4 separate regions of the Homo sapiens genome follow, and all the other regions are linked to region 3. Evidence: fine-mapped expression QTL. A gene starts in region 3. Each other region holds a variant in brackets. All regions are shown on one strand. Distances are from middle to middle.

Region 1 (8,104 bases), 120 kb before region 3:
ACTTTAGTATATAGTACATATTAGTACTAAAACATATTTAGTACTAAGCTTTCAAAAGAAACCTGTTAATGAGGTTATATATCTTGATGCAAAAACTATGGTGATACTAAAGGGAAGTACAGGGGGAAAAAGAGATATGTTTAAGAATTAACAAAGCGTAGCCCTAAATAAATACTGGATGTCAGGGCTACAAGAGAAGAATGTCTAGGCTGCCTGCCGAATTTCTGGCTTCTGTAAGCGTGCTCTTGGAGGTGTAGGCAGGAAGAGCAGCAGGCTCAAGGGACAGAGACGCGGCTGTTGCACAGACTCATGGGATCTGAGATGCCTTTCTGGCATTCAGGTGGATAAACTCCATCAGCAAGAGTTCCATGGCAGCAGCTTGGAGGAGGACGGGGCGGGAGTCAGGTTAGGCATTTCCAGCAAAAAGAGGGCAGCTGGAGCCTGCGGTGTGAATGGATTCACTCAGGGGATGGTCAGAGAGTTCACTCAGAAAGGACCAGAGAGGATCAGGAGCCAGGGGAGACTTAGAGGTATATGTTTTGGTGGATTATGTGCTTTTTAAGGTAGGTGTGGCTAAGGGGCTGGGTAGGAAGGAGATTCAGAAGAGAGGATGATCATTGATTAAATAGGTTTTCAATGAGAGTTTTAGTAAATCCAAGGTTCTAAGGGTGAGTTTCTCCTTAGACAAGAGGACAGACACCTTGTCCTCAATGAGAAGGAAGGTAGGAGGACAGAGTAGGGAAAGGCTCCCCCATGGAGCTCTTGGGCGTCTCTGCGTAGGTGAGTCTCAGCCTCAGTCGGACCCATGTCTTGGCAGAACACTCTGTGATCCTTCCTGGGATTCAGCAAGCAGGGCAGTCTCGTAAGGGTCATCTGTAGGTCATTTTCCATCCACTTCCCTGTCCTATAGGAGGCTCCCTGTCTTGTGAGGGGCTGCCACAAGACACTGTCTTATCCACTTCCCTGGTTCCAGTGAGAAGTAAAACTTTCCACATGCCCCCCTTAGGGCATAGCTCCAGCTATAAAGGTGCTTGGTTGTATTTTAGAGTGAGATATCCCAATGGAGCAACCCACTCCTCATGTCTGTCATCTGGCTTCTCCAATTTGGTGTCATCCTAGGGATGTGGAAAGCTGACATTATGATGATGTTGCTTATGCCGTTAGTGTAAGTGATAAACAGTCTAAAACCATCTCCATATTGACCAGATCTATGTGGTCTGAATGTAGGTTTCATGTTGCAGCCTAATATCCAATGCGATGGTATTAGAAAGAGCAGCCTTGGGAGGTGATTGCCTCAGGAAGGTAGAACCCTCATGAGTGGCATTAGTGCCCTTATAAAACAGACCCCAGAGAGCTAGCTGGTCCCACCCACCCAGTAAGGACACAGCAAGATGGTGCTATCTGTGAGCCAGAAAGTGGGCCCTCACTAGACACCAAATCCATCTTGACTTTGGACTTCCCAGCCCCCAGAACTGTGAGAAATCAATTTTTGTTGTTTATAAATATTCAGTCTGTGGTATTTTATTATGGTAGCCTGCATGGTCTAAGGCGTGTGGCCACTCAATTTTGTGATGAAGTCAGTGGTGCTGCTGGGGATAGTGTAAGGCTTGACAGGAAGTGTGGGCAAGAGGGTGGGCAAGACGGTGCTCATTCTGTCTGAGAAGTAGGCAAGGTGTTCTAGGGCAGTGGTGAAGACAAAGTTCAGGAGATGGTGAATGTTTTGAAAGGAAAGTTTAATATGTTTTCAAATTATTTATTTGCTTTTTTTGAGAGTGGATCTCACTTTGCAACCCATGCTGGAGAGCAGTGGCACCATCATAGCTCATTGTAACCTGAAACTCCTGGGCTCAAGCCATCCTCCTGCCTCAGCCTTCTGAGTAGCTGGAACTACTGGTGCACACCAGCACTTCTGGCTACTTTTTTCTTTTCTTTTCTTTTTTTGTAGAGATGGGAGTCTCACTACATTGCACAGGCTGGTCTCAAATTCCTGGCCTCAAGTGATCCTCCCGCCTCAGCCTCCCAAAGTGCTAGGATTACAGGCATGAGCCACTATGCCTGGCCTAGAATGGGTAGTTTAGAACAGACCAGCATCTCTGCATGTGCCTGTGTCCTGTAGGAAAGACCCAAACTCTCTGGAGGTCTCGCTACCCAAGGAAACATGAGCCTGGCCGGCTTCTGGATGTGGGGAAGCCTTTCACAGAGAGCAGGGTTCCCCATTGCTGAATTAACCTCTTGTCCTGAAAGAAGTAATGGTCTCGTTCTGGGACATCTCATATCCCTCATGGTCCCAAATTGGGCCCTGTGCAGCACAGATAGAATTGAGGAGGAACCTCTCAGTCCAGAGGGACGAAACTTCACCTAGAAATGAAGCAATATCTTTCTCAGCAGCTGCTCACTGAAAAAGTAGGGTGCCTTGGCTAATGTGAAGGGTGGGGTCCCAGAGATGAGGCCTCCAGAGGTTCTGGCGGGAGAAACACGTGGGATTTTGTGGAGTACAGTTCAAGAGCCATAGGTCTGCTGCAAACCCGCACTATGACTGTCTCATGGAAGAGCAAACGAGGACACTGAGGCTCTGAGCAGTGAAGCAATATGCCCGGAAGCAGGCAGGCAGACAGTGGCAGGACCAATGCCGACAGCCGGTTTCTGAGTCTGGAATACCAAGTTTGTTGGGGAAATGTTCCAAATAGGTGTCAGGAGGGCACAGGGCCAGGGCCAGGTGAGATGTGTGCAGAGCAAGGTGGGAATGAGGGGTCCCTGAGGATAGCACTGGGGTTGAGGTGGAAGAAAAAGGGAACCCGTGCCAAGCTCTTCTTTCCTTAACAAATGTTTACCGAGTATCTCCTCCGTGTCGGTGTGACATTAGGTGCAAAGGACAAGGCAACGGGGACTGTTTCTGTCTGTGTGGCACATCGAGTCCTGTGGAGAGAGACTCCCAGCAAGGAGTAATGCTTTTGCATATAACAAGACTTACACGTGACTATAGATTCCACTTGCACCATGCTTTTCGTGGACTCATTTGTTCAGGGATGTGGATGTAATTGACATTCCATTTTACTAAGCACATCGTGTTATTCCATTCTCATGACAACACCCGGTTTATGGATGAGATATCTGGAGGTTGCATGGTTTTCGTAACTTGCTGAGGGTGTCACAGCTGGGAAAGACAAGAACCAGGGTTCCTACCCAGCTCTGTAGGAGTCAAAAACCCAGGCCCTTGGCACCTGCACAACACCTCTGCCTCATTTCTCAGTGAGCTCTTGTTTTGTCTGCTCTCTACCCTTGTGCCCCCACACGCTGTCATCTCCTGCCCTCCTTTGGAAGCATGAGGCTGGGGGTCACAGAGGGAAGCTGGCCCCTCTGGAATGGTCCAGGTCTGTTCAGTGGATGGGAGGGGCATTGGGCTGCAGAGCTCAGCCCAGGGGTGCACATCTGGGAGCCTGTCAACCACAGGGTCCGCCTGTAGACCCAGCAGAGAGCATCGTCACAGGAGCCAGCCTTGGCCCGGGACATTCAGTTAGAACAGCTCATTTATTTGGCAAATTCCACTCCCAAGTTGGAAGTCA[T/C]GTTAGGATTTGCTCATGGGTGCAGGGTATTTCTGGAACATTGAGTGCAGATGAACAATGAAATTCCTCCCTGGAGGGCACCTAGGAGAACTTGCGGGCTTATTAAAATCGCAGCAGTGGGGAGATCACTTCACTTCACAAAAGCAAACAGCAAGGTCACTTAAAAATTGTTGCCTCTTTTCTCTCATTAAAAAAAAAAAGGAATGCTTGCTTGGAGCTAGGGCTATCTTGACTTTCAGCCTGCCAGGCAAAGGGATGCTCACGTCATGGACCATTATCTGATTGTAATCTACGAATTCAGAGAAGTTTCTGGGTAAAATCATAGTGGGAAAATCGAGTTTTTGGATCTGTGTCTTCAGAACGATGCAGTTATGTGGAGGAAGGCACTCCCGGGCCTGGGCCTGCCTTGCAGCGGTGAGTTACTAAAGCTGGAGAGTTCAAACTCTCCAGCTCCGTGCAGATGTAAGTTTTCAATTAGGTTGCCTGGGTCCAAGATTAGTCAGAAACACTGCAGTAAAACTTAATCCAATCATTCTGATTCTTCTCCAAACATGATTTATCTTATGATCATCAGTACTTCGATGAAAGGGGAAACGCCAGTTCACTTTTTTTTCCCTTTGCTGTGATTCATGTGTCCATTATCCCAGAATCTGAGTCCTGTTTCAGTTTGGCAATAGCTTCCTTTGGCATTCTATTTTTGTATGATCATTAGCATTCCTTTTTTCCTAAGCTTTCATAACATTCAAGTCAGCCTTTTATATCCTTCCCCAGAAGGGCTGGAGATCTTGTAAGCTCCCGCTGTAAGCAGGGCCTGCCTAACCTTAAATGTGAAACATGTTTTAGTGCTGAAGTCATTCCTCAAAAAGCAACGTGAACTTGGGAGGCTGTGCCTGGCAGAATTCAAAGTGCCCCGTGGAGAGACTGCGGGGAAGGACAAAGAAATTGGGACCTGCCTGAGGCCATGAGTCCAGACACAGGCATGAGCTCCTTTCCTGTGCTGTGGAAGCCAGTGGGACAGAGGGTGTTGTGCTGAGGAAGCAAGCCAGTAGGACAGAGGGTGTCACCCTGGTCTTAGGGCCAATCAGTCAGGCACAGAGCATGGAGTTCAAGTCCTGCCTCCGTTGCTAATTAGCCAGGAAATCTTGAGCAAGTGGTCCCACCTGCAGTGCCTCGGTTTCCTCATCTCTCACATGAGTCTTCCTCACGGGTGGTTTTGAGACTCAAATGTCATAATGAGCATGAAATGCTGAATATCTGACCAGGCAGGTTGGATACATTCGATGTCCCCTTAGTGAGCCCCTACTGTGTGCTAGTCCTGGAGGTGCAGGGATGGAAGGTGTGGTTCCTCCCTCCTGGGAGCTCCCAGTGTAACTCAGCAGTTACCAGTTGGAGCTGTTCTGCCCCTAGGAGACACTGGATATCGTCTAGAGACATTTCTGGCTGTTGTGATTTGATGTCAGGGAGCTGCTGCTGGCATCTAGTAGGTAGAGACCAGGGATACCGCTAAACACGCTATAATGCACAGGACAGCCCTGCCCCCAGAGCAAAGGATTATACAGGCCCAAGTGTCAACAGTGTCGAGATTGAGAAACCCCGGTCCAGCTGAAGAACTTCATGGGTGACCAGGCCGTTGAAATTCAATATGACGAGGGTCTTAGTAACAGGGTGAACTCAGGGGGCAGAGAGACCACCCCTTGTTTACTCTGTCTCAGTCATTGGGTCAGACTTAGTATGACACCCATGAGGCTCCCAGTCCCTGCCCATTTTTCAGGAGAGCTGAGGTGGTCCAAGCCCAGTTTAGCACACAAGAGGGCTCCTTCAACGACCCCCATACCACCATCTAAGAAAAATCTGCCAAAACGTGTGCAAAGTATGACAGCTGCTCTGTGCCAGGCACCATGCTAGCACTGCTCCTGCCCCTGCCCGGTCAATAACTAGTGCATGGCCAGCCTGGAGCTCCTGCCCCTGAAGCCTGAGCCTTGGCCATGATCCCAGGCAATGTCTCCATAAAGACGCCTTAGGACCTCGCGGCCTAGGCACTTTTCTTACCCCAAGTCTTCCAGAACCACGGATCAGGAAGAGGTACCCAGAGCCCTGGAAAGCTCCTGGGTTGCTGAGTTCTGGGAAGAATTCCTTCCCTCCTCAGTAGGGACCTCAGACAGAAGGAGCCGTGGACGGCCGCTCTGTTAGCTGAGGCTTAGCACAGCCTGCCCCTCCCTACATCGCTGCTGGGACCCAGCTTGCTGCAACACAGCGGTTCTCAGAGTGGGGTCCCCCAAAGGCAGTACCAGCGTCACCCGGGGACCTGTTAACTATGCAAAATCTGAGACCCTACGACCTACTGCATCAGAAACCCTGGGGATAGGGCCCAGAAGCCTGTGCTATGAAGAGCCTTGTAGGTGAGTCTGACGCGGGCTGGAGTGTGAGAACATGCCTGTGGAAGGCAAGCCCCTGTGGGTGGTCAGGTAAGTCCTTCCACTGCTGACAGTGCTGGGCTGAATGCAGCTGGGTTCCCTGGGAGCCCTCTCAGTACAGTCTCTCCCGCCTGCCTGGGAAATTCACCTTCAACTCCACGAAGCCTCAGCTCCCCTCTGCAAAAAGCACAGAATTGCTTTGAAGTTAAACCATGTGGCAATCATGATCATAAAATTCTTAGGTTGGTGCAAAAACTGCGATTACTTTTGCACCAATCTAATAAATTCAGCCCCCTTAGTAGAAGGCTCTAAGTTGAAGAAGTTTACTATAGTTCCTCTGTTTTGGTAAAAAGCAACATTGAATCAATGCAGGCAGCAAGCAGGAAACATTTAAAATGGACGCCAGTGAGTCAAGACATGGAGCGCTGAAAATGCTGGGACTGCATTGGAAATGTGCATAAAACTTAAAACAACAGAGATGAGAAAGATACATTCTATCTCCATCTGGCAAGTTAAAAAAAAAAAAAAAACCAGAATGCTGGTCGTGCTGTATCTTGAGTTTGGTGATAGTTACAGGAGTTTATTCATTTGTAAAAATTCATTGAGATGAATGAATGCATTTAAGATTACATATAAAGAATATAAATTGTCCAGGCACTGTGGCTCGTGCCTGTAATCCCAGCACTTTGAGAGGTTGAGGCTTGAGGATGACTTGAGCTCAGGAGTTCAAGAATAGCCTGGGCAACATAGCAAAGCCCTGTCTCTGCAAAAAATAAAAAATAAAAAAAAATTTACTGGGCATGGTGGTGCATGCCTGTAATCCCAGCTACTCAAGAGGCTGAGATGGGAGAATCCCTTGAGCACAGGAGGTTGAGGCTGCAGTGAGCCTTGATTGCACCACTGTGCTCCACCCTGGGCAACAGAGCAAGACTCTTTCTCACAAAGAATAATATAAATTATGCCTATATGTCTATAAACATTGAAAAAAATTCTGTATTTTACAGTTTGTATGTTACACTTTAAAGTATTTCAGGTTGACAAAAAAAAAACAGATAAATGAACTTTTGGTGAAAGAGCAAGGAGACTGAGACTTTCAGGAAGTGGTACAGGCACAATGCATGCTGGGAACGGAATGGGCAGGTGGAGAATGGCCTTAGGAAGCACTGTGCAGTCTGCACCACTAGTGATGAGCTTGTGAGTGTATGGTCAAGGCAGAACTAGGTATGGACTTGTAAAATCTATTGACAATTACAACTTAGCCCTGAATTTGAGAAAGCTGGAAGGAAGTCGTCTGGAGGACTTCTTGGGTGAAAAGGCGTGCAGTAACCAGACTTCCAGACTTTTATTTACAACTGGGCATTAAAGCCAACGCTTAGTCTCAGAAGGTTGTGGTGTGAATTAGAAGCCACCTGGGAGTTGAGCAAGACTGACTCAAACTCCAGTTCCAAGCCCTGGGACAATCTAATGCTGTTTCGGAAAGTCTATAACTTCCTCATAAAGTTTCTGGGTTTTTTCCCCTTTTTTTAAAACTTCTTACAAAATGAATACACATTTTTTTTAGAACAGTTTTAGATTTACAGAAATACTGACCACAGCCTTTTCAGACTGGCTTCTTTCACTTTGCAATATGCAATTAAGGTCCCTCCCTGTCTTCACAGTTCTGTGGTTTTCTTCTTGTTGCTCAATAATATTCCATTGTATTGATGTACCCGTTTGCTTGTACAACCACCCATTAAAGAACATCTTGGTTTCTTCCAGTTTTTGGCAATTATGAATAAGATAGCTATAAACATTTTTGTGCAGGTCTTTGTATGGATATACTTTTTCAATTCAATTGAGTGAGTACTTAGGAGCACAATTGCTGGATTTTAGGGTAAGACTGTATTTAGCTTTGTAAGAAATGGCCAACTGCCTTCCAAAGTGGCTGTACCATTCTGCATTCTTACCAATAATGTATGTGAATTCTTGTTGCCCTGAACCCTCATCAGCACTTGAAATTGTCAGATTTTTGGATTTTAGCTATTGTAACAGGTGAATAGTGGTGTCTCGTTGTTTTAATTACAATTCCATAGTGACAAATGGATATGAACATCTTTTTATATACTAATTCACCATCTGTACATCTTT
Region 2 (8,104 bases), 100 kb after region 3:
GTGTTGCTTTTCTGGCCAGAAACCTCTGTGGCCAGTGGTACCTTTGCCCGAGTTCTTGTCCTGTGTCCAGGAAGAATGAGGTACACAGACAAGTAGAAGGTAAACAAGATGAAGAGGAGTTTTATTGAGTGTTAGAATAGCTCAGAGGAGACCCACAGTGGGTAGCTCCTCTCTGTGGGAAGGTCGTCCTGTTGAGTGTTCAGTTCTCAGCAGAGAGGAGGCCCTGGAGTGGGCGGTTCCTCTCTGCAGCTGGTTATCCTGTTGTCTGCCGCTATCAGCAGAGATGGTAGCTCCTCTTTGCAGCTAGTCATCCATCCTTTCTGTCATCTCTCTGTCCTCTGTCCTGCTCTGGCTGAGCCTGGGGCTTTTTTGGGCCTCAGAGCAGGGAAGTGCATGCTGATTGGTCCACAGGCAGCCATGCATGGGCCCAGGAGAAAGCACCATGATGTCCCCCTCTGGTCCTCAGAACTGGCAGCCCAGCCCCCAGGCTTTATGCCTGCCCTGGCCTGAAGCTGGGGCTTCACTGGGGACCCTCCCCCTTCTGCCCAGGAGCCTGTCTGCCTCCCGTGGCCATTCATGGCACCCAGGTTGCTGGCACCAAGGGGCACCTGCAGGCCAGTGCCCAGCTGCCCTCAACTCTCCTTCAGCTTCTCCTCCCATGCTCCTCAGTGCCCAAAGTCCAGAGGGGGCTGAAGGGGCAGGGGGCTGGCATGTCAGCACTGCCCCAAGTGTGTGCACACCTGGTTGGGCTGTGAAAGTGCCTGGGCTTGGCCCCACCTCTGCTCTGAGATCAAAGTGGGTGCCAGGAGTGGGGAGAGGCTAGGCAGCAGGACCAGAAACCACTGAGCCTGCAAGGACAAGGGTTCCTTCCCAGGCCCCCTCAAGAGTGCCTTCCCAGGCCCCCCCAAGAGTGCAGGGATGCCTAGGTCTGCAGCCCCAGTTTGGGTGGCTACAGCTGTGCCTGGGGCAGGGGCGGGGCTCCTGCCTGCTCTGCAGAGCGGGATGCCCAGATCTGCAGCCACAATTTGGGCGGCTGCAGCCCCCTCTCAGGAGGGCAGAGCCCCTGCCTACTCAGTGGAGCAGGAGGCCCAAGTCTGCAGCCACAATTTGGGTGGCTGCAGCCCCCCCTCAGGAGCACAGGGCCCCTGCCTGCTCAGTGGAGCGGGAGGCCCAGGTCTGCAGCCACAATTTGGGTGGCTGCAGCCCCCTCTCAGGAGGGCAGAGCCCCTGCCTGCTCAGTGGAGCGGGAGGCCCGGGTCTGCAGCTTTGGGCAGCCGTGCTTAGGGCAGAGTTTGCAGCAGCACCTGGGGAGCTCCCATCCCAACTTGGAAGAGGTGGGGCTCTCACTTGTCTCCAGCTCCCGCTGGTTCCACAGAATGTGCAACCCCAGCTGCACCTCCCTGTTGCAGCTGATGTGATGGCAGCGGCAGGCCGCGTGGCACAGCCACTGCCATCAGTACTAATACAGGTAAAATAGATATGCAGCAAATTAGGTACTTACCATAGTGGGTTGAAGAGTAGCCTGCCCTGCAAATTCATGTCCACTCAGAACTCAGAGGGCAACTTTATTTAGGAATAAGGTCTTTACAGATGTAATTAAGGTGATAATCTTGAGATCAGATTATCTGCATGCGGGGTAGGCCTCAAATCTCATCACTGTTGTCCTTATAAGAGGAGAAGAGGACACAGAGACACAGAGGGAAGGCCGTGTGAAGACAGAGCAGAAGGCAGAGATTGGAGTGCTGCAGCCACCAGCCAAGGAGGGGCGGAGCCACCCAAAGCTGGGAGAGGCAGGAAGGAGCCTCCCCAAGCCTTCCAAGGGAGCACGGCCCAGCCCACAGCTTAGTTTTGGACTTCTGTTCTCCAGAGCTGTGAGATAGTGAGTTTCTGTCATTTTACGCCACCCAGTTTGCAGTTACAGTGGCCCTAAGAAATTAATACCCAGGCACACACAACCAAATCCACAAACAGGATGGACAAGGCCCCCTCAGACATCGATGAAAGCTCCGTTTTGGCCCTGACTGGTTTCTCTTCCTCTTCCCTGGTGTGGTTAACCTCACTGACTGGTCCCAGCTTCACCTCCAGCTGTTGGTTACACTCCCTGACCCACACTGTTTCCCAATGGACTGAGGATTTCTAGATTATTCTCCATGGCTGTGAACATTTTCAGAGTTTGCAGTTCATTGTCAGCTAAATGCAGATTGAACTCTGAGTCCGAGATCACACCTGGCAGGTGCTCTCTGCAGAGTCACCCACTCTGAGCGCCGCCCAGGAAGTGTTGGTCTCCAGAATGCTCTGCCTCTCTGCAAGATGAAAAGAGTTTGAAAGACCTTCCCAACATGAGTCAGAGATAGAAGGATGTCCAGGCATCGTCACTCTTGAGTCCTCCCAGTTACTCAGCACCAGTCACACCATGACCACATCCTGGGCTGCTGGACCCAGCTTCCCCTCCCCTCCTATGGCCATCCCACTCCCTCCTCCACTCCTGTCCCCACCTCTCCATCCTTTACCACAGCAGTCTGGAGCAAGGTTTGCTGTGAAACTGTTTCTTTCTGTATGTGGCCAGTAAAAGCACTTTAAAAATTTGTTGAGTTTTAAAAATTGGGTGATTTTTCATTGTAAGTTGTGTGCAGTATTCCATTTGTCATCCCTGAGGAGGGATCAGAATGTCTGGACTGAACACTTGCACGACATTAGATTAGCTCATCATTGGTGCTGTGGCTGAGGCTAGCTCACCATTGATGTGCAAATGAGGCTAGCTCACCCTCAGTGTGTGGATAAGGCTAGCTTACTTCTGGAGCTGTGGATGAAGCTAGTCACCGTTGGAGCCACTGATGAGGCTAGCTCACTGTTGGTGCTGGTGCTGTGGATGAGGCTAGCTCACCATCAATGTACGGATGAGGCTAGCCCACTGTTGGAGCTACAGATGAGGCTAGCTCACTGTGGAAGCTATGGATGAGGCTAGTTCACCATTGCGTGTAGATGAGGCTAGCTCACCCCTGGAGCTTTGGTTGAGGGTAGGTCATCATTGTGTGTGGATAAAGCTAGTTCACTGTGGAAGCTGTGGATGAGGCTAGCTCACCCCTGCACCCATGCCTGAGGCTGGTCACTGTTGGTGCTATGCAGGATTCCATCCTCA[T/A]GCCATTCTGAAGGGGGCAGATTCTCCCCCTGGAAGCCACCTGCAGGGTGAGGGAGCACTGTCTCCCAGGTGGTTTCCTGGCAGGGACGGCTCCACTCTGCATCCAGCCTGGCTGTGCACCAGCATAGCTCACTGTGTTTCTTTCCTCTAAGATCATCCCCGCAGCTAAAACCCTGTGGCCACTTTTCCTGGGTGCTTTTCCTGCCGGAAGACAGTCCTGTTTAGGACAAACTTGCATTCCTTTGTTCCCAGCTGACTCAATGTTCAAACAATACAATAAAAAAGTGTCTTCCTTAAAAAGAAAAAATTCAAAACCAAACCCAGTCCTAAATTCTCACCAGGGTAACTATACTGGATTCTTTGGCTCCTGAAGCTCCCAAAGACCCTAAGCATGACATCTCCTCCTGGCATGTCCAGGTCTGGTGTCTGCAGGCATCAGTTGGGCCCCTGGAAGGTTCGCTGGAAGTGGTGGCCTTTGGGATGCAGTTGAACGCCTGGGTTGTGAAGATCTCTTTACTGGAGCAACTGGGGCGCACTATCTGTCTGGGGGTGCTGCAAGATGGGATCTTAATAACCACATGCTGCAGGTTGCCAACTGTCCTTCTGGCCTGTGTCCAAGACCAACGTTTCAGAATCTGCCTTGGTCCCGTGGGCCCCACATGCCCACTGCCTGGAAGAGCAGAGGGGACTCCTTTCCTCAGGCATTGCAGGCTTGGTATGCCCTTGGTCCCTGAGGCCACCATGTAAGCAGATGCCCTCACTGACACCCCTTGAACCCTGGAAGGGGGCCCCTGATAAACCCCCCATGGGGCTGTCTTTGAACTTCAGGGCTGCTGGAGCAAAATGACTTCCTGGGAAGCCCGCTGGCCTCGGACGCAGAAACCTGGATCCTGAGTGGGCTTTCTCTGGCGAACAGCTCCGGCTTTGGACAAGTTTATTAACCTCTCTGGCCCTCAGTTAGTCCATCTGAGACAGGGGCAAGGCCCAGGGTTAACCTTCAGGAGAGCCTACAGCTCCAGATTGAGCTGCCTCCTGCTTACAGTTAAAACATTGATGAAAATTTACCAAAACACAAAAACTGGCCAACCACACTAAAACTTGGTAGAAGAGCCAATTACTAAAGTATGGGACAGATGCTGATTCTGCCATCAACAGAAATGTGCTGAGCCGTCATCCCGAGCTGCGCACACTGCAGGCGGCATACTGAGCCGGAGGACGGAGGAGCAGCTCCCACTCACCCCACTGGCTGCTCACCCTGGGAGGCCCCCAGCTGCCCGATGTAGAGCTTCCATCCTCCTCCGGTCCATCAAGGGACCACCGAAGCCTGGACCCTGCTGGGTTGAGCAAAGGAGCTGGGCTTTTCCCTCCTGGTGCGTCACGTGACTTTAGGAAGGGCTGTGAGGCGGGCACCTGGAGGGACAGCTTCCTTTGCAGAAGAATCTCAGCCTCTCCATGACTGCTGGGGAGACCAAAGTCCCCAGCTTGGGAGCAGGCAAGATCTCACCTCCCAGATGCCAGGCCAGGGCTCTGCCGCCAGCCCTTGCTCTGGCGTAGATGGTGGAGCTTGCACACAGCGGGACCCGCCCCTGCAGAATGAAGGCAGCCCCAGAAAGAAAGGGCGAGGACACCATCTAAATTCCTCCCTGGACAACAAAGATCACAAGCAAAGCTCTGTGAACTGGGCAGGGCAGGGAGGCTCCATCAGTGTTTGCTGAGTGAATGAATGCAGGAAAAGAAACTTAAATCCTGAGAGGGAAGAACAAACCTGATAAAGCATCTCAAATGAGCAAGAGAACAGAGATTAAAATGACAAGAAAACCATTTGCTCAAATAATAGGAAATAAAGATACACATTAAAAATAAGAATTGACAAATAAGAGACCAGACCCTGTGAAACTTCTTAAACATCATTGGAGAGCACTTTCACAATTACCAAGGCTGTGTGAATTTTCTTCTTGATTGTTCCTTTACTGCTGATTTTTTGTTTTAATGAGTTATGGTGAAATATGTTGCTATAAAGTCTATCTTTTGGACTTAATTAAAGCTTCTTTTCCCGTGGTATGGGAATTTTTTTGGTAAGCATTCTATGAATGCTTAAAAAGAAAATTTAGAGACGAAGTTAAATATCTGCTAATCAAGCATAATGCTGAGTATAATTTATTGAAGGTTTATTTGGTGCCAGGAAGATGATGTTCGCACCCATTTGTTCAAGACAACATTTGAGCACCTGCGTTGTGCCAGGCATGCAGCAGTGAATCACAAGGGTGATATTCTTTGCCTTTCTGAAGCTGCTATTCAATAGGGCTGTTCTTACGGATCTTCTCAGTTAACTCCATGAACTTAACACCTTGGACGGAGACTTAGGTTAAGAAACTTGTCCAGTGACACACTCAAAATCAAGGGCAAAAGTGGATTTAAAACCAGGCCTTCTATCTGGTTTTAAATGCCCACGTGCTGAACCACTGCCTCACATGGCTTTCCTCGACCCGACCAACATATCTCTGGAAATAAGTGCACCCTTTCTTACTCCTGATCTGCCCGCATGGTCAGAAGATCTGTGTTAAAATTTGTCACAAAAATTGAGTTTCTATTTGCTCTCGCATTTCTAAGTGTGTTTGATTTATACAAGGCTCATACAAAAAAGTGTGTGACAGGTAGTGTTTTCATTAAGGATTCTTATTATCAATATAGGTTTCCCTTGGACCCATCTAATGAATTTTAACTGTGACTTTCATTTTATTTTCTATAGTTTTCGAAATTCATGTTTGCTTGTTTTGGCTGATATGTCCTTCCTTGATGTATTTTTAATCCGTTTTATTGAGTTATAATTTATATTCAATGAATTTTACCGATTTTAGGTATACAATTAAAGGAGTATAGCCTTGGGCATAATCAAGATACAGAACAATTTCATGATTCCAGAAAGTACTTTCATCTCCTTTGCAGCCAATCCCGTTCCACCCAGCCCTGGCAGTGATCGGTCTTCTCCCTGGTGCTGCAGTTTTGCCTCTTCTAGAGTTTTAAGAATGAAATCATGTGCTGTTTCCTCTCTTGCATCAGACTCCTCTATTCACTTTATGCTTGTGAGATTCATGCATGATGTTCCACGCAGCCATAATTGTTTCTTTCTTGTTTCTGAACAGCATTCTATTGTACAAATACTGCACAATTTGTTAATCTGTTCCCATGTCAGTGGACATTTTGGTTGCTTCCAACTTTTGGCTGTTAGCAATAAAGATGCTATAAACATTCACATAAATATCTTTTTGTGCATAAAAGTGAAGTTGCCAGATCATTTTGTAAATAAGCAACTGCCAAGCTGTGGTTCCAAGTGGGTTGTAGCACTCTGTGTTTCCACCAGCAACACAGGAGGGTAGAGTTGCTCCACTTTCTCACCCACGCTTGGTACTGTCTGTCTGCTTAATTCCAGCCTCTCTAGTGAGTACACTGCGGAATCCCACTGTGGTTTTAGTTTGCATTTCCCTAATGACTGATGAAGTTGGGAGCCTTTTCATGTGCTTATTAACTATTCATATACCTTCTTAAGTAAAATGTGCATTAAATCTTTTCCCCATTTATTTAATCAGAATGTTTGTCTTCTTATTATATTGACTTGTAAGAGTCCCATATAGTTTGGATGTGAGTCCTTAATCAGATAGATGTGAAAATATTTTCTTCAAGAATGCATCATCCATCTTAAAGTTATAAATAGTGCCTTGAAAGGAACAAATCTTTTTAGTTTTCATAAAGTCTAATCTATCAATTTTTTTGGCCTACTTTATGTCCTAAATAAGAAATTTTTTCTAATCATCTGTTTCTCCTATGTTTTCTTACAGGAAATGTTAGGGTTTTAGCTTTTATATTTAGGTTTACAGTTCACTTCAAGTTAATTTTTGTATGTGGTGTGAGGTAAGGGTAGAGGTTCTTTTATTTTACACAGATATACCCATGGTTCCAGCACCATTGCTGGAAGGCTGTCCTTCCTTCCAGTGAATTATCTTGGCACCTCTGTTGAAAATCTAGTGACCACATATGCTCGAGTGTTTTTCTGGGCTCTGTTCTGTTCCATATATCTACACAGCTGTCCTTATGCCAGTGCTGCACAGCCTTGATATCTGTAGTTTTATACAAAGCCTTGAAATCAGGTAGCATATGTCTTCCAACTTTGCTCTTTTTACTTAAAGAAATAAATGTTTTGACTATTGCCCATCCTTTGCATTTCTCTATAAATACCAAATCAGCTTGCTGAATTCTACAAAACAGAAAGCTGCTAGAATTTTTCTTAGGATTGCATTAATCATAGATCAATTTGAGGAGAACTGACATCTTAATGGTATAGACTTTTGATTCATGAACATGATATAATGTTCTATTGAGATAAATCTTTAATTTCTGTGTATTTTTCTTCTTTTTCAGTGCACTAGTCTTGTACTTTTTTGTTATACTAATTTTACAGTACTTTGTATTTTTATTTTCTTATAAATGATAGTTTCTGAGAAAGTTCAATTCCCATTTAATTCTTGTTAGTGTATAGAAATACAATTGAGTTTTGAACCTTGACCTGCTCTTCTTCAACCTTGCCAAACTTACTTATTTCTCCTCATAGCTTATTACTAGATCTTTTCAGATTTTCTCTATAGAAGATCTTATCACCTGTGAATTAAGACAGTTGTATTTCTTCATTTGCAACCTGTATGAATTCCATTTCTTTCCCTTGCCCCATTGCCCTGGCCAGTGCCTCCAGCACAATGTCCAACAGAAGTGGTGAGAGCAGACACCCTGGCCTCACTCCTGATCATAGAGAGAACGCATTCTGCCTCCTTAACGTAAATTATATAAGCTGTAGATTTTTAGTAGATGTAATTTGTTGAGTTGAAAAATCCTTTGTTTCTCCTGGTTTCTGGAAGTTTTTTTTTTTAACCCTTTTCCTGTTTTCACTGAGAATATTCACTGGGAGCGCTTGCA
Region 3 (8,104 bases):
ATCACCAAGAATACATTGCACTTTACAACTAGATTCGAGAAGCATCTTCAACCCTGGTTTTTAGAACTGAAAAATGCTTTTACAGTGACCCCCAACCCTCACCGCTGCTCTATCACACTGGGGAATGTGCTGGATGATTGAAATCTTGGGGGGTGGCAGGTGGTTGCAGGTAGGCATAAAGTATTGCCAGAATAAAGCCAACAATACATGGCACAAGGATAGCTTTTTCCCAGACAGCATATTTCTAGCATTCAGCAACATGATGCTGAAGACCCCTAGAATCTACACAGAAATGCCAAAACTTTGTCAGATAATTCTCAAGAGTCCATCTCTGAAAACTTGTGGTTTCTTAAAATAATGGGTCATGTTCACTGTCATCTCAGTCTACGAGAGAATAATTCAAAATGAAGGCACCAAGACTAGTTTGATGGAAAAGTGTCAGTGGAGCGCTGTGTTAGTGTAAGACTGCTACTGCGCCAATGCTATTTGCTTTGCAAATAAGGAAGTGCTGTTTGGGAGATGCTGTTACCAACCCCCGGATCAATGTCATTGATTCATTAATCTGTTGGATTGATTCTGTCACACAAATATGGGCTGCTCTGTCATCTGCTCTCAGTTCACTAAATTCAAGTGGAGGTAACAACCCACCATGTCACTGGGAATGGAAACTAGACCTTTAACGATATCTTGGTTTTTGTCTCTTGCTCCAACAAGAACTTCATAGAGTTAAACTACAAAAGGATCTGCTGAAGAGCTCAGGTGGGTTCACCCGTGCAGGCATTTTGACAAAAGGTAGCGACAACAGCATTCAAATGTATAAATTCATTGCTTTATTTAGCTCCTGAGAGTTTACTAAATTTTTTTCACATCTGAGCAAGTACACAGTTTCTTATCCTAAGAAAGCCCAGGGGCTGTATAATTGCGTCGTATTCTTTTTTCTTTCTTTTCTTTCTTTTTTTTTTTTTTTGACACAGTCTTGCTCTATCGTCCAGGCTGGAGTGCAGTGGCATGATCTTGGCTCACTGCAACCTCCGCCTCCTGGGTTCAAGCGATTATCCTGCCTCAGCCTCCCGAGTAGCTGAAATTACAGGCATGCACCACCACACCCAGCTAATTTTTGTATTTTTAGTACAAATGGGCTTTCACTATGTTGGCCAGGCTGGTCTCGACCTCCCAACCTCAGGTGATCCACCTGCCTTGGCCTCCCAAAGAGTTGGGGGATTACAGGCGCGAGCCACCGTGCCTGGCTGCTATTCTTGAAGACTATCCCCAGGTGACAATCCCTGCAGTGTCATTCTACTGCAGCAAGATTAAAGCCAATCTAATAGCTGGCAAATTTGCTGTGAAAACATATCACCTTCTGTTACTTGCTGCCCTAAGGAAAATGTGCAATAGAAGAATCTTTCAGAACACCAGTTCATTTTTTTTTAAAAAACACAAAGTCACATGAAACAAAGCACACTTTTTTACATATATGAAAGGAAGCATTCACAGGATTTTCCATACTCAGTAATGAATAAGTACCCCAAGAACTGTATTTACTTCTGTGAATCTTTGTTGCGTGATATTTTACTGAAGTCCAAGTGAGCCTGGGTGGTCCTGCAAAGAGTATTCACACAGAGATATATTGTATTACTTATGCTATTAATAAATTGGCTTTATTAGCCTTATCACTGACTTAATTTTTGAAAGAAAAACTCAAACTAAATCAATAACCTGAGTATTATTTCCCAAATTGATGACATTTTCATTTGGGTTTTAATTCAGCAAATTCCCCTCCTCAAAAGAGGGGAATGCTGTCACTTCCCCAGCCAACATACAGGTGACATTGGAAACGCTGCTAAATGCCACTGTGCCTTAGCTTCTCCTATGTATGCAAGGGGTCACTGCCCAGGTAATGACTCTGAGGGGCTGGCAATACAGCATAAGAAAGTCACTCCAAATTCTGTTAAGCAAGGTTTTCCGCAGGCAGCCGTCAGTATCACAGCCTCCAGTACTATAATCATTGTTAAAGCATTTTAAAATAGACAAGACACGCCATGAAGAAAGTGCATCCAGACGGTTGAACTGGGCTGCTGGTTATGATAGCTCCAGGGCGCCCCGGGGGGTCGCAGGTGAAATCCTCCAGGTCCATCTCCCCAGGCAGAGGTGAGCCTGCAATCCAGCTTGCGCTGCCCTTCCAGGGCGTCCCCGGGGCCTCTGGTCTTCAGGGCTGGGCTGAGCCCTGGGCTGCTCAGGACCAAAGCTGAGCTGTTTTTCTTTCAAACTAAACTATGAACTCTCTCTGCTGGAGAAAGAGACAGAAAGGACAGAGAAAGAGACACGCCGACAGAGCCAGAGTGACACAGGGGCACGCAGACAGGGAGACGAGGATGGCGAAGCAGGCTACCAGGCAGGTCCTCTCCTCAGTAAAAGCCCTCCGCATCTGGGAAAGGGAAGATGTCCCTGGATCTGGGTCCTTGGACCCACACAGGGTTGGTAAAAGGGCAGCAAATCGCTACTGTCACTGCTCTGAGCAAAGAAACCAGGGAAAGGCCAGTTCGGGAAAAACAGGCCCTTTCCATCTGACGTGAAGCCCCAGGAAGGGCTGCAGCCCAGCACCGGCAGGACGGCTGGGGACCTGGCTTCTCTCTCTCTCTCTCTCTCGTTCCTTAAATTTTTATTTGAGAATTTTAAAGAAAGGGACCTGGAAAGCTATTTTGTTGGGCTAGAGGGGCCGTGGGCCTTCCCAGCGCGGAGGAAGGAGGGCGGTCAGGCCGGGTGGGGCTGGGTGCGGTGGCTCTGCAGAACCTTTAGGCACCGAACTGAAGCCGCGGGTCCGGTGCGCGGACACTGCGCAGGGCGCTGCTACCGACTCACATGCATGCGAGGGCCCGCTCCTAGGCGTTCTGCCTTCCTGGACGGATTGTTGGTAAAACGTCCCCTAGAACGGCCGGAGCCAGGGCCCTCGGACAGGGGCGCGAAGGGCCCGCTCTTTGCCGTCCTCGGGTTTCCCAACGCGGTGGTCGTGGCCCGCGGGCCCCACCTCGCGGCCCGCCTGGCCGGCCGGAGGAGCAGCGGAGGCCGAGCACTCCCCGGTCTCGGGTTCAACTTCAATAAAAGGGCCCAGCCCGCCCTTGATCACGCGGCTTGCCTGACAGCCCGGCTCAGGCCCGGGCCTAATTGAGCCCGGGTCACCTGGGAATAGGTTCAAAGGCATCAAAGCCGTAAAAACCACCTCCAGGCCCAGAGCCAGAGCGGCCTGGCGAACAAAGAGCCCCCCAACCACTTCAAACGCGCTCGCGCTCGCCGTCCAGATGGCCCGGGGCCGGGGTCCGTGGTGTCGCTCACCGAGGCCGGGCCCCACACTCCAGCCACCCTGAGCCTCCTGCTCGGAGCTGCCCGCGGGCTGCCAGCGCAGCGGAGGCTGGGCCCGGGGCAGCCTCGTGCAGCTCCCGGAGCGCCCTCCGTCCTCTGCTGACCCGCGAAGCGAAGGCGGAGCGCAGAGGCTGGGGCCGTACAAGGCGGGCCGGCAGGCGCCCCAACCCGCGCCCAGCAACCCGGGTAGGGCCAGGCAGGCGGGCGCGGCGGGTACCGGGCGCTCCCGCAGAGGCTCGCTGTGGCGTTGTTTTAAAGCTGTTAGAAGGAAGGTTCGGGAAGGGCGTCGGGGCCGGGGCTCCCCAGCAAGCCAGGGTAAGAAATGGTCCCCGACACGCACGCTGGCCGAAGGGTGGCATCTCCACGGATCTTGGCGGCATGTCCTTGGGCACGGGCGTCTCCAGGGGGCCCCGACTGTCCTTACACTGGCGGTCCGGACACCGAGACCCCTGCCCGCGCAGCTCCCCAGACCCCAGGCCTAAGCTTGCGGGCCGCGGTGCAGACTAGCTGTGCGCCCGGGGGCGGCCAAGACCCACACAGGTCGAGGAGGCTCCTGGCTGCGTCCTCATCTTCTGGGAGCGCATCTGGGACTGGACTCGCCTCTCTAGCCCCTCACGCCCAGAGAGAGAACCCCCCAAAGCCCAGTGGGGGCCGATCTCTACGTTGAGGCGTAGACAAAGCCAGGCTTGGCCGGGCCTAGGGCTCGGGGCGGCCTGAGAGTGCCCTGCGTTCGGGGTGGGGGCGCGGGCGGCGGGCGAGGACCCGGCCCCCGGGATGCCCTCCGCGCCGGGGCCGAAGGGGGAGGCAAAACTGAAAGTGCCGCGCCGGGGGGCGGGGGCGGCCGGCGAAGGCCCCAGAACTTGTCCTGCCCCCGGCCACCGCGGCCAATCAGCGCGCCGCCCTAGCTCCTGACAACTATTTAGCAACCCAGCCCAGCTAGAGTTTCCAAAAAAGTTAGAATAACTTCCTCTCCCGGAGACCTCGGTTTTGCACAAGCCGGCCTTGAAATCAGAGCCTTTCCAGCAACTCCGAGAGCGTGTGCTCGGCGACCGCGGGCTTGGCCAGCGGCGCGCGCTCGGCGCCCCGGCGCCCCCAGCCCCACGCGCGCCGGGCGGGCGCCATGGAGGAGGGCTCCAGCTCGCCCGTGTCCCCCGTGGACAGCCTGGGCACCAGCGAGGAGGAGCTCGAGAGGCAGCCCAAGCGCTTCGGCCGGAAGCGGCGCTACAGCAAGAAGTCGAGCGAAGATGGCAGCCCGACCCCGGGCAAGCGCGGCAAGAAGGGCAGCCCCAGCGCGCAGTCCTTCGAGGAGCTGCAGAGCCAGCGCATCCTGGCCAACGTGCGCGAGCGCCAGCGCACCCAGTCGCTCAACGAGGCCTTCGCGGCGCTGCGCAAGATCATCCCCACGCTGCCCTCTGACAAGCTGAGCAAGATCCAGACGCTCAAGCTGGCCGCCAGGTACATAGACTTCCTCTACCAGGTCCTGCAGAGCGACGAGATGGACAATAAGATGACCAGCTGCAGCTACGTGGCCCACGAGCGCCTCAGCTACGCCTTCTCCGTGTGGCGCATGGAGGGCGCGTGGTCCATGTCCGCCTCCCACTAGCGCCGCGCCACCCACCTCCGGACCGGCGCGCCAGGGTAGGTGCTGCGCGCGCGACGGGCGCCCTCCGCTGCGGGGGGCGGGCGGCAGGGGCGCAGGGGCATTGGGGCCTGCTCGTGTCTCCTCGGCGAGGCCCCGCGGGCCGCGGGGGCTTGGATGCCGTGCGCTTTTCCTCTTAGCAAGGAAGGCGGGCGGGCGGGACGCTCACAGTCCCAGGGACACCCCTGAGTGCAGACTTCCACGCGAGGGTGTCAGTTGGGAACCGGCGGACCGGTGACTCCCCCGGCGGGTTCTGAAGATACTTAGACAGATGGTCGCAGTTTTCATTCTCGGTGGTGTGTGGGTGTCCGTGGTTGGCGGTGGAAGGAGCGAGCATCAGAAAAACCTCCTGGGGCCGGCTGGGGACTGGGATATGAGGACCAGCTGCCCTTTGCGTCCGCCGCAGCGCAGGCCGCCCGCGAAGCTGCCCGAGCCGGGTGTTGCCGGGCGAATGGCTTCGCTTTCTTCCTGGGCAAGGGTAGAGCGCGTCCGTCGGGCGGACACTCAGATCTACCCAGCTGCTCGCGCCTGGGGTCCCCGGCCGTCGGCGCCCTGGCCTGCCCAGTGGGCGTAGAGGTGCGGGCCTGCGGCTCCAGGGTTTGCCTGGGGAGGACGGGAGGAAACTGCCCTGCGCTTCGGGGCCAGAGCAGCCACAGGGCCGGGTGTGCCCGAGAAGGGCCCTGGGCCGAGAGCGCAGAGCCTGGAGCGCTGAGGCAGGCGGGTCCGACGCAGCCGCGCGGAGCCCCAGGGCGCCCGCAGGCAGGTGGAGCTGACCTAGGAACTGGGAGCCCTGAGTCCCAACCTTGACCCTGGAGTACCCGGGAGGGGCCCCGCCCATCCAGCCCCGCAGGGATGGGCGAGGGGTCCAGGCTGGGAAACGGGTCTGGGGGACAGGGAGGCTGTGCGCGCCGGGCCCTGCGCGAGGAGAAGGCTCGGGGGACACAGCTGCCAGGAGCACTCCAAGTTCTGGTTTCCTCTGGAAGAGCGATTAGGGCGTCCTGCACCGGGTCCTTTTCACCAGACACCTTCCAAGTCCCTTTAGACAAGCTCGAGCCACGGAGGCGCCGTCCTTAGGCTCTGTGAGCAGGCGAGCCCCTCTCTCATCCGCCATCCAGGGCCATGGAGGGGCACAGAGTTCTTTTTGCTGGGGCCGAGTTAAAAATCCTTCCCCCTTAGTATGTTTTAGTTCCTCGCACATCTTGCGATGTTTTTATAAAAGACTCTACTTCACACAGAAGGAATTTAGATTAATCAAGAGCACCCGGCCGCCTATTCTCCCAAACATATCTATTTCTTTTTTTATGTGGTTCTATAATATCTGCGAATGTTGTTGCTGAGGCCACGAAAAGCTGATCCAGCACAGGTGGGTTTTATTTCATTTTTTTAGCTTTTATTTTGGTGTCACTGAAAATTCTGTAGCTGCAGAGCCTCCTGAGATAATGATAATTGTATAGTTTTTAAAAAATAATTTTCAGCAGAAAATAACTTGTGGGAATCTTCTCCTGTCTTTGTCAAAAACAGATGGAAAGTGTCTCAATCACATATTTCTCTAGGAAAGTTTGGATTGGCTGAGTACTAAACGCTACAGTGGGGTAATACATTAATTCTGGTTTTTGCTGCCTAAATAATGAGCTTCCATTAGTTACTTCCATTTATGCTTTACCTCATTCATGGTTTATAGCACATCTGAAATAAGAACAAACAGATGAGGAATGTCATCTTTTTAAAAACACACACATTGAGCCGTGTTTAAGGAAAATGTCACTTTAATTATCGTTAAGACTGCCCTCCAGAAAATTACTGAAAACAAATACCAGTAGATATGATGCTGCTAGAATTTAGTAGGAACATTTAAAATTCATTTAAAAATAATCGCACTCCTCAAAACTTAGAGAATCAGCCATAGGTAACCATTAAAGATTATAGAAAAATAAAATGCAATACATGTAATAAATAAATAAAAACAGTGCCAAGAGCTTGTTTGGAAAAAAGCCCTTGAAAATATAATAGATAATTACACAGTTAGTGGGAGAGCTGATGATCTATAAGGAGCCTATTTATTTTTATTTTTACATACTGGACTATAACTGAGTAGTTCAAACAAGCTAGTTTCATTAAATAGATACTCTAAAAGAAGAGAAAAGAAATATGGAAAAATTTTATCCATGAATGATTCTGGACACACCTTGTTTTTATTTATCAGGCACGTTAGGCAGACATCTTGTCATTCTTTTTGTCTTTAACTCATTATTCCCTATAAGATCAATACGATTATAATTGGTTTGATTTCCTGAAAATGTTGCTAAACAGCATTTGTTTTTATTTGTAGCATTTCTAAGAAGCATTAATTATATGCATCAGCAAAGAATCTCTAGACATTTCAGTACATTGTAAGTGATTTTAATGTTTGATGTGGGATGTTTTCACGTATGTGAAGAAAACTGTCAAGACTAACAGCAACAGCAGCACAAAGCCTAAATTGTCCTCTGAAAGGAAGAGAAACGCAAGAGATGGTGGAGTGCGGGTGCTGCCGATATCTATCCTGCCTTTCTTCTTTGGCCTGGTATTTAAAAGCACAATTAGACAATAAATCAGGTGTCTTTGTCCAGTCAGTTGGATTCATCTAATAGAAAAATCTCAAAAGGATTTTTTTAGTATTCTCATTAAATGCCTGAGTCTTCGGAGCAGGGTCCCAGACACCTGGCTTGGAGGGTGGGGGAAGGTGACCATTACTTATCAGACATTTGTCCTGTTCCCTGCTGTGTGGTTAAAGAAAACATCTTCTCTAACTTCTGCATAGTGTGCACAGATTTTCAGTAGATTTCCTCACTCAACAAACTTTTTTTTTTCTGAGAACTTTTAGCTACTTTGAAGAAATTGCATGACCCCTTCACCATCTAATATATGTGAGCCTTTTCCTCCCTCCTGAAAATTTACTTCTCATAGGTGTTTGTTAACTGCTGTATTCAGGATGCTAGAAAATCAGTTCTTCGTGGAGAAGAACAGAAATGCAGAATCCCAATGGAGCTTTTGCTTGCCTAGAAGAAGTAGAATGAAAGGCTGAGCTCCCTGGAATATAAGCAATGTTTGGTTACAAAATACCCATCA
Region 4 (8,104 bases), 62 kb after region 3:
TGTGCGTGTGTGGTTTTCATACGCATGGGTTTCAGGGAAAATACGTCTTGGCTTTTTCAGACTGTTGCCTTGGTTCAACAAAGGTTCCTGGAGGTCTCTGAGGACCTGGGCTGCTGGGGTGAAGCCTGGGGCTGGGGGTTGGGAGAGGGCTGGGGGTGAAGGAGCGGAACCACACGTCCCCCCTGCACACTGCTGTGCGACATCAGACACCCACGCCCACAGGGACACACACGGACCCACGCACACAGATGCACACACCCACACAAAAACATGCACACTGACACTCCCACAGGGACACACACACAGACCCACTCAGGAGGATGTACATGCTTACACACACACACTGACACACGGACCCACTCACGTGGATGTACACACTTACAAACATGCACACCAGCACTTCCACGGGAAAACACATGCACTCACACGGATGCGCACACACACATACACATGCATACTGACACTCCCACAGGGACACACAGACCCACTCATGGATGCACATGCTCACACACATGCATGCACACTGGCACACACACGGGCCAACTTACACGATACACATGCTCACACAATTTACACAACTTGCACATGGACACACACTCACTCTGGACATTCTTTCATACTCACACTCACTCTCACACTAGTGGGCACACTCACAGACACACACACGGGATGTCACCGAGCACCACGTCACCCGTCCCTCCAGCTTCCACATCCTCCCCCCAGTGCCTGGGGCCTCCCTGGACCTCCTTCCCTGTGGCAGAATCCTCACGGTGACCCCTCTCCTGGCGGCCGCCTTGGGGAGCCCATGCCTGCCTCTGGGCTGACACCCACCCCTCCCACCACGCTCAGCCGCTCTGCGGGAGGAGGGTCTCGTTGCGCTGGTTTGCCCCTTGGCTCAGGGGAGTTCTCCAATAATTCTCGCTGAACACTCACCTCCCGCGAGCTCTGCAGGTCAACTGGCTGTTCTCATGTTTGTGCAAGAGGTGTGGGAGTGAGCACTTACACGGCCAGGCCCTGTGGTGAGCAGTAAAGGTCCCAGGTCGCAGGGCCAGTCTTCAGCGATCCCTGCTAGAGCTCAGGTCTCCTGGCAGGACAGCAACACAGCCTGGGGGCTGCTGCAGGCTGGCCTGGGTGTGTGGCAGAAGCGGCCCTGAGGCGCGGCGCGGGGCCCACCTGTGTTCGCCACACTCCCGACCAGGTGCTGATGCCAGTGGCGTGTCCCCTGCCCTGTGGGCCCCACTGAGGTGGCCCAAGACCTTGGGCTTATGACACCACATCCCTGTACACCCTGGGTCTCAGACGCTGGCCCCGGCCACCTCTCAGCACCTTCTCTTTGAGCTTGGCAGGCACAGAGGGAGGCGCGGGATTGGGGTCCCCACCCCGGCTTCCTGGAGGACCTGGACTTTCCTCCTGCCTGTGTCTCCTCCCCCTGCAGGTGGGAACCAGGCTCTGGGTAGCGCCTGAGCGGGTTCTTTCCCCAAGGCGCTCCCGGGACAGCTGGTTGCAGCCCCAGAGCTGCACCAAGCCTGGCACACCCACAGTTTGATTGGCCCACAAGTGCGCTTAGAAGTCACTTGTGTGGCATGAGGGGACCTTGTGGGGCTGGAAGAATTGTGTGTCTTGATCATAGTGGGGGGTGCAAGAAACAACACGCATGATGAAACTGCAGGAAGTACACATACACCACTCACACACACACACAAATGCACACAATACACACACAAACACACACATAAACGCACACAACACACACACAAAAACACACAAACACTCCACATACCCACTTACACACATAAACACACACCACGCGCCACACAAATATACCACACACTACACACACACCCCCACACTGTACATACACACCACATACACACACACCACACAAACACACTACACCCCCACTTACAAACACACACCACCTACACCACACACAAACACACATCACATGGCACACAAACATACCACACACTACACACACACCCCACATTGTACATACGCACCACATACACAAACACATACCACACAAACACACCACACCCCCACATACACACACAAAGTCACGCCACATACACCACACACCATACAAACATACCACACACACAGACATACCACATACACATACACATAGATACCATACCATACACACTACCCACTACATACCACATATACATACCCCACACCACACACACATACACACGCCACACTGTACACATATACCCCCCATACAAAATACAATCCCCCAAACACACACCACATACACCATGCACCATACATACCACACACTACACACACACTTCACACTGTACATAGACACCACATACACACACATACCACACACACAAACACACCACACCCCACATACACACAAACACAAACCACATGCACCACACACCACACAAACATACCACACACTGCACACACCACACATACCACATACACACACATGCACACACATACAACATACCATGTACACTACACACTATATACCACACATACATACCCCACACCACACACACCCACACGAGTGACATGTGAATAAGCTCTTGGTCCATACTGGTGCCAGATGCCTGGGTGTGACGTGACGACACCACTGTATGTGTGGCATATAATGTGGTATATAATATACCATATGGTATGTTGTCTGTGTGGATATGTATGTGGTATGTTTGTGCAGTGTGTGGGGTGTGTGTAGTATGCAGTGTGTTTGTGCTGTGCAGTGTGTGTGTGGGTATGTGGGGATGTGGTGTGTTTGTGTGTGGTATGTGTTTGTGTATGAGGTGTGTATGGACAGTGGGATGCGTGTGTAGTGTGCGGTATGTTTGTGTGGTGTGTGGTGTGTGTGATGTGTTTGTGTGTGGGAGGGTGTGGTGTGTTTGTGTGGTGTGTGGTGGTGTATGTAGTGTGTTTGTGTATGTGGCAGTGTGGTGTGTTTGTGTGTGTGGTATTTGTATGTGGTGTGTATGTACAGTGCGGGGTGTGTGTAGTGTGTAGTATGTTTGTGTGGTGTGTGTGTGTATGTGGAGGTGTGGTGTATTCGTGGTTGTGGTATGTGTATGTGGTGTGTATGTAGTGTGGGGTGTGTGTAGTGTGTGGTATGTTTGGTGTGTGTGTATGTGGGGTGGGGTGTGTTCGTGGGTGTGGTATGTGTATGTGGTGTGTAGTGTGGGGTGTGTGTAGTGTGTGGTATGTTTGGTGTGTGTGTGTATGTGGGGTGGGGTGTGTTCGTGGGTGTGGTATGTGTGGAAACTGGGTGAAAGGCACATGGGACATCTCTGTGTTGT[C/T]TTTGCAACTTCCCGTGTGTCTGCAATTGTTTTGAAAGCACGCATTTTAAAGCAAGAATCCGCCGTTGACAGCTCCCGCCAGCGGCTGACCCATTTCTCTGCGTCCTCCTCGCTGGAACCCAGCCCTCTGCTGCCCGAAACCCCACAGCTCCCTCGGGCCTGCACGGGGCCAACGTGCCGAGCCTCTCTTGTCCCCAGGCAGCCTGTTCTGAGGGGCTCACCCACAGCCAGACCGCATTCATGGCTGCGCTGAGCACGGGCCAGGGAGAGGCCCCGGGGTGGTGAGTGTGAGAAAGGGCACTCGGGGGCAGGAAAGGGCACTCGGGGGAGGGAAAGGGCTTGGCCTGGCCCAGGGGGCAGGGGTTGCGGAAGCCTGGGCTGGCCCCGTAGCAGTCACCTGCCCAGTGTCTTTTGGGAGGAACATGAGTAGAACAGAGCCAGCTCTCTCAGGGCCTGCCCCGTGTCCCGTCCCACCCAGCCTTGGGACAGTCTCAGGACGATCCTGCAGGAGGCCGAGCGAGGCGGCCGTAGCTCACGGTCCCCCTTCCGTATCTTCCAGGCTGTCCGTCGCGTCGGCGGCGCAAGTGGAATTGGGATGCATTCGAGTCTGTAACTTCTGAAACCTGAACAACCTCAGGAGGCCCCCACCTCTGCCCTCCACCAGCGTCGAGAGAAGGGACAGCAGTGACATCGGACAGAAGACCCGGGCTCCCGTCCTCCCCCAGGACGGTCCCCACATAGGAAGGGCACTCCCAGCCCTCTTGCTGGTGACATTGTCATGGTCATCTTGTTTCTGTTTGGATTTTTCTTCTGGGTCTTATGTTTGGGGGGAGGTTTATTCTTTCTGAAAATGTCTAGATTCAGGAACACATTTATGAGGATTTGGATTTTGAATTTGTATTTCCCTCTAAGTGCCTTTTTTAATGTCTATTTTTTTAATAAAACAGAAATGCATTCTTGTACAATTCTGTTGAAACTGGACCAAGGCTCTCAGAAGAGGACCCCCGAGTTCCTTCCCCTCCCCCGAGCCTCTGCATGATTGTTTCAAGTCAGCCTGGAATTCTTACTTTCACGCCGCTATTCTTTTCCTTTCTCCGTGATTGCTTGGCTAGCCATTTAAAAAAAAATATTCTCTGTTCAGTGTATATGTTGCTTGTTTGTTTTATTTATTGAGATATTTTTACAAGCTAAGTGACTGCAGTGTGGCTGTGTATCCTGCTCCCCACCCAGGAAAAATAAAGACGTCCGCGCAGCCATGGTCTCCCCATCTCTGTTCTCATCTCTACTTCGCAGCTCAGGGCTCTGCCTGAGAGAGTCAGAACAGGTTGCAAGAATCACTATTACTTCACTTTAAAAGGCACGAGAGAGGATGTGAGACATTTTATGCTGTGCATGTTTGTAGAAATTTCTAGAAACTACCAACTCTAACATGGTTGCCAGTGTGAACAGACCGAGGCCTGGGAGAGCAGAGGGGGCCTCAGCCCTTTCCCAGTGCCTAGTCCTCTGCTGCTCCCCAGCAGCCTCAGCACAAGAGACCATTGCTGTCACACCCACGCCCCGCTCTTGATACAGAAGCGTGCCCATTCTGTGAGCCACCCCTGCTGTCCAAAGTCCGGGCCAGCCTTCCCTGCTGCTCACCCTGGGTGGTATTCCCTGCTCTCCCAAGCATGGCATTCATTTGTGCCACCACCTCCCTGCTTCTCTGAACGAGTCACCGTCTGCTCCACATGCATCCGTGCCATGTTGACCATGAGCTCACCAGGCAGCTGGCTAAGAATGGAGCACCTGGGTGTGCAGGTTAGGTTGGCATCCTGCCCAGAAATCCCAGAAGGAACATGATCTGCCATCAAGGAGAGTCAGCCTGGGTCTGGTGCAGGCGGGCACCTCTGCATGAGGGCAAGGGCTCTATGCCCTGCCCGCTACCTCCTTACCATGCCAGCACCCATGAGCACTGGGGGCTGGGTGTTGCTTGTGGACCCCAGGGTGGAGGCTTCCAGCTCTGGAGACTGAGAGTCACCAGGTCACTACCCTGAGCCACCAAACGCATGTCTCCTGGGGGACATCTGGTACCGGGGTCTGCTGGGTGGAGCTGCCCACCAAGCAGTGGACACACAGAGCCCACCCAGCTCCTAGACAGAGGTTCTGGAAGTAGGGGTCTCTGGCAGGATGGTGGTGGCTTGCGAGCCTCATTTCCCACTCCCACCCTGTCCCCAGGTCCACCACGGCAAGGACAGGAGCTCCGGAAACACCAGCATGGCCTCAGCTTCCATCTGGCTCCTGTTGGTGACCTTGATGCAGCACTGGCTTCCACTGGGGCTGGCATCACCGGGAGCGCCTGTCTAGGTCACAGATCCTTGAAGCACAAGCGCCAGAACCCACTGCATGCAACAAGCACACAGACACACACACACACACGCCCAGATCGCACATGCACATGCCACACACATGCATGCACACACACCACACACACATGCACACCACACACACATGCATGCACACACACCACACACACGCACACATCACACACACATGCATGCACACCACACACACATGCATGCACACACACCACACACACGCACACATCACACACACATGCACACACACCACACACACGCACACACCACACACACGCATGCACACACCACACACACATGCACACATCACACACACACATGCAGGCGCACAGACCACACACACAATGCGTGTGAACACACTTGGCACACTTCAAACACACGCACACGTACCCAGGTCACATGAATGTATGCACATACAACCAGCATACACATGCACACATGTGCACACACGAGACTCTGGGGAGATAGAATGGGGCAGCTGTGGTCCCAGCAGTGAAAGGCCCTGCCCTCCCCAGTACTGTCTGGCATGCTCTGCTGAGGCCCGTGGAGGCCACGAAGACTATGAAGGCCACGGTGCCCTCCCTCCTGACGTGATTCAAATAGAAATAATCCCAAGTCATGTAATGCAAAGCTGGCGGACAGTGGGGCCAGAGGAGCCTCTTTCTTGGTTTCCAAGTTGAAAACTTCGTTATTCCTCTGCCCGGTGCCCTGAGCCTGGTTTCCTGGTGAGCAACAGCCTCTTGTCACCTCTGTGGGGGACCCAGCCCTGTGAGTGCTCACACCGAAGCCCCAGGCAGAAGGGGCAAGGAATGAAAGGGCCCCGTGCAAATGAGGGGGCACCCTGGCCCCACGTGGGAGGTCAGGGATGGAGTTCAGTGGGGGCCTCAGAGCAGTGACCAAGCCGGGGGGGTCATCCCAGGGCCTCCCTGCGGCGGCCGCCTCTCCGGGCATCACCGCCTGCTGCCTGTTCCCAGCCCAACTGCTGCACACTCTGGTAGCCACATCAGGGTGTCCTCCTCCCCCAGCCCTGGCCTCTCCTGGGGTCTCTCCTGGGGCTTTTGTCTCCAACTCTGGGCATCCAAGGAGCGGGTCACCGACACCTTAGGCTACGTGGAAATACGCGGCTGTGGACACGGGCTCACTTCCTGTTTTCACCCCCACACACACATTCCTGGAAGAGGTGCCGAAAGACGCTGGCTTCCGGAACACGTGTGTGTGTGTCTATGGTTCCATACGCACGCTGGCACGCGTGTATTTGCATGTGTGTGATGCATGTCTATGGACTATGGACGCAGGTACCTGCTCTCCCATAACCTGCTGCTGGCTCTCCTCCCCAGGCATGTCGTGGGGCCACTTCCCTGTGCTGGCTCCTGCTCTGGGGTCTCACAGCTTCTCTGGGGTCAACCAGAGCCCTCTGCAGTCACGGCCCTGAGAACAGACCTGAGTGAGCTGGTGTGCACATGTTTTCAGGGTCAGATGACTGGTGAGTCCGCAGAACAGGAGACTGTTCCGAGCCCCAGGGGCTGTCTAAAGGAAAACCTACCCCAAACCCATCTCACTTCCGCCTGTGTTCAAAGGCAGCCCGACGGAGTCCCCAGCTGTCAGGTGACCAGGTCAGCCTGAGGAGCCTGGGTGCAGACATGTGGGGTGAGGGGACCTGGAGGGGGCGGCAGCACTGCCGGGACCCCTGCACCCAGCCAGGCCCTGGCATCGCAGACCATCCTTGAGGGAGGGCCGCTGGCCAGGCAGGTGGGGGCCTTGAGTCTGAATTTCCCCGCAGGGCGAGACATGCTGGGGGCGGGGGCTCCTTTGCAGGTCCTCAGCCTCAGGTCTGAAACACAGCCTTGGGCCTGTGCAGTGGCCAAGACCAACACGTCTTGATGGAAAAGTCTCACTCTTTGATTTTGAAAGTGACTGCAGACAGAGGTGGGACTTCCAGGTTGTAGCTGATGGAACACAGGCCCCATGGGAGCCGGGAGTCATGCGGCAGCAAAGAGGCAACGGGAACTCAGCCCCAGGTCAGCCGTCTCCCTGCAGCCCCAGTGCCATCTGCAGGATGCTGTGTGGCTCTGAGTGACATAGTTTGGAGGGTTGCTGGCAGCCCTGAGCACCCCAGAAGAGGAGGTGGGGACCCTCACAGGAGACCAGACAGCCTCTGGGTAAGGCAGAGTGGGGATGGGCTGTCTGGAAGAGTGAGGCCTGGGTGGGCAGGGTGGGTCCTGGGGAGAGGCAGTATATTCCACGTGGCTACAGAGGCCAGGTGCAGCCTTGTGTTATCCTGCACCTGCAGGGCCATGAAAATGGCTGTCAGTCATAGAAACGGTGCCATCGGAGGCTCGTCGAACACCTCACTGTGTGTGGCATGGGTATGCCTGTGGGCCGCCACACGTAGGGGCCAACGTGTACAGAGGCAATCTGCCCCACAGATGCCTTCAACCCACAGGCTAAGATGCCACGTCGTCTGGGGCC

Direction of the effects. Positions count from the first base shown, and alleles are read on the strand shown. Sizes are in standard deviations (SD) of each study's normalised expression. Not every link is listed here.
In carriers of allele T in region 1, the expression in fibroblasts of the gene that starts at base 4,347 in region 3 tends to be lower than with C alone (small effect, 0.29 SD a copy in GTEx).
For the expression in whole blood of the gene that starts at base 4,347 in region 3, allele T in region 4 goes with a higher level than allele C (large effect, 1.5 SD a copy in GTEx).

Evidence for each region.
Region 1: its variant is fine-mapped to the expression of TWIST2 in fibroblasts (GTEx, PIP 0.93).
Region 2: its variant is fine-mapped to the expression of TWIST2 in whole blood (INTERVAL, PIP above 0.99).
Region 4: its variant is fine-mapped to the expression of TWIST2 in whole blood (TOPMed, PIP above 0.99). The same link has a PIP of 0.9 or more in neutrophils.

Annotation. Positions count from the first base shown.
Region 1 is chr2:238,724,652-238,732,755 of GRCh38, forward strand. All of the region lies in intron 1 of LINC01937 (long intergenic non-protein coding RNA 1937), which reads left to right. Among named protein-coding and RNA genes, the nearest start is that of LINC01937, 8.7 kb to the left of the region's middle. RefSeq lists an enhancer at 5,813-6,312. The variant T/C (reference allele first, on the strand shown) is at 3,564.
Region 2 is chr2:238,946,230-238,954,333 of GRCh38, forward strand. No RefSeq gene overlaps it. Among named protein-coding and RNA genes, the nearest start is that of LINC01940, 24 kb to the left of the region's middle. The variant T/A (reference allele first, on the strand shown) is at 3,140.
Region 3 is chr2:238,843,739-238,851,842 of GRCh38, forward strand. It overlaps TWIST2 (twist family bHLH transcription factor 2), which reads left to right and starts at 4,347. Exons shown (of 2, transcript NM_001271893.4): 1 at 4,347-4,995. The coding sequence starts at 4,478. The coding sequence ends at 4,960. It overlaps LOC100287387 (a long non-coding RNA gene), which reads right to left and starts at 4,169. Exons shown (of 1, transcript NR_157851.1): 1 at 808-4,169. RefSeq lists enhancers at 2,283-2,793, 2,794-3,304, 4,838-5,347, 5,348-5,858.
Region 4 is chr2:238,906,002-238,914,105 of GRCh38, forward strand. TWIST2 (twist family bHLH transcription factor 2) reads left to right here. Exons shown (of 2, transcript NM_001271893.4): 2 at 3,841-4,533. Among named protein-coding and RNA genes, the nearest start is that of LINC01940, 16 kb to the right of the region's middle. The variant C/T (reference allele first, on the strand shown) is at 3,282.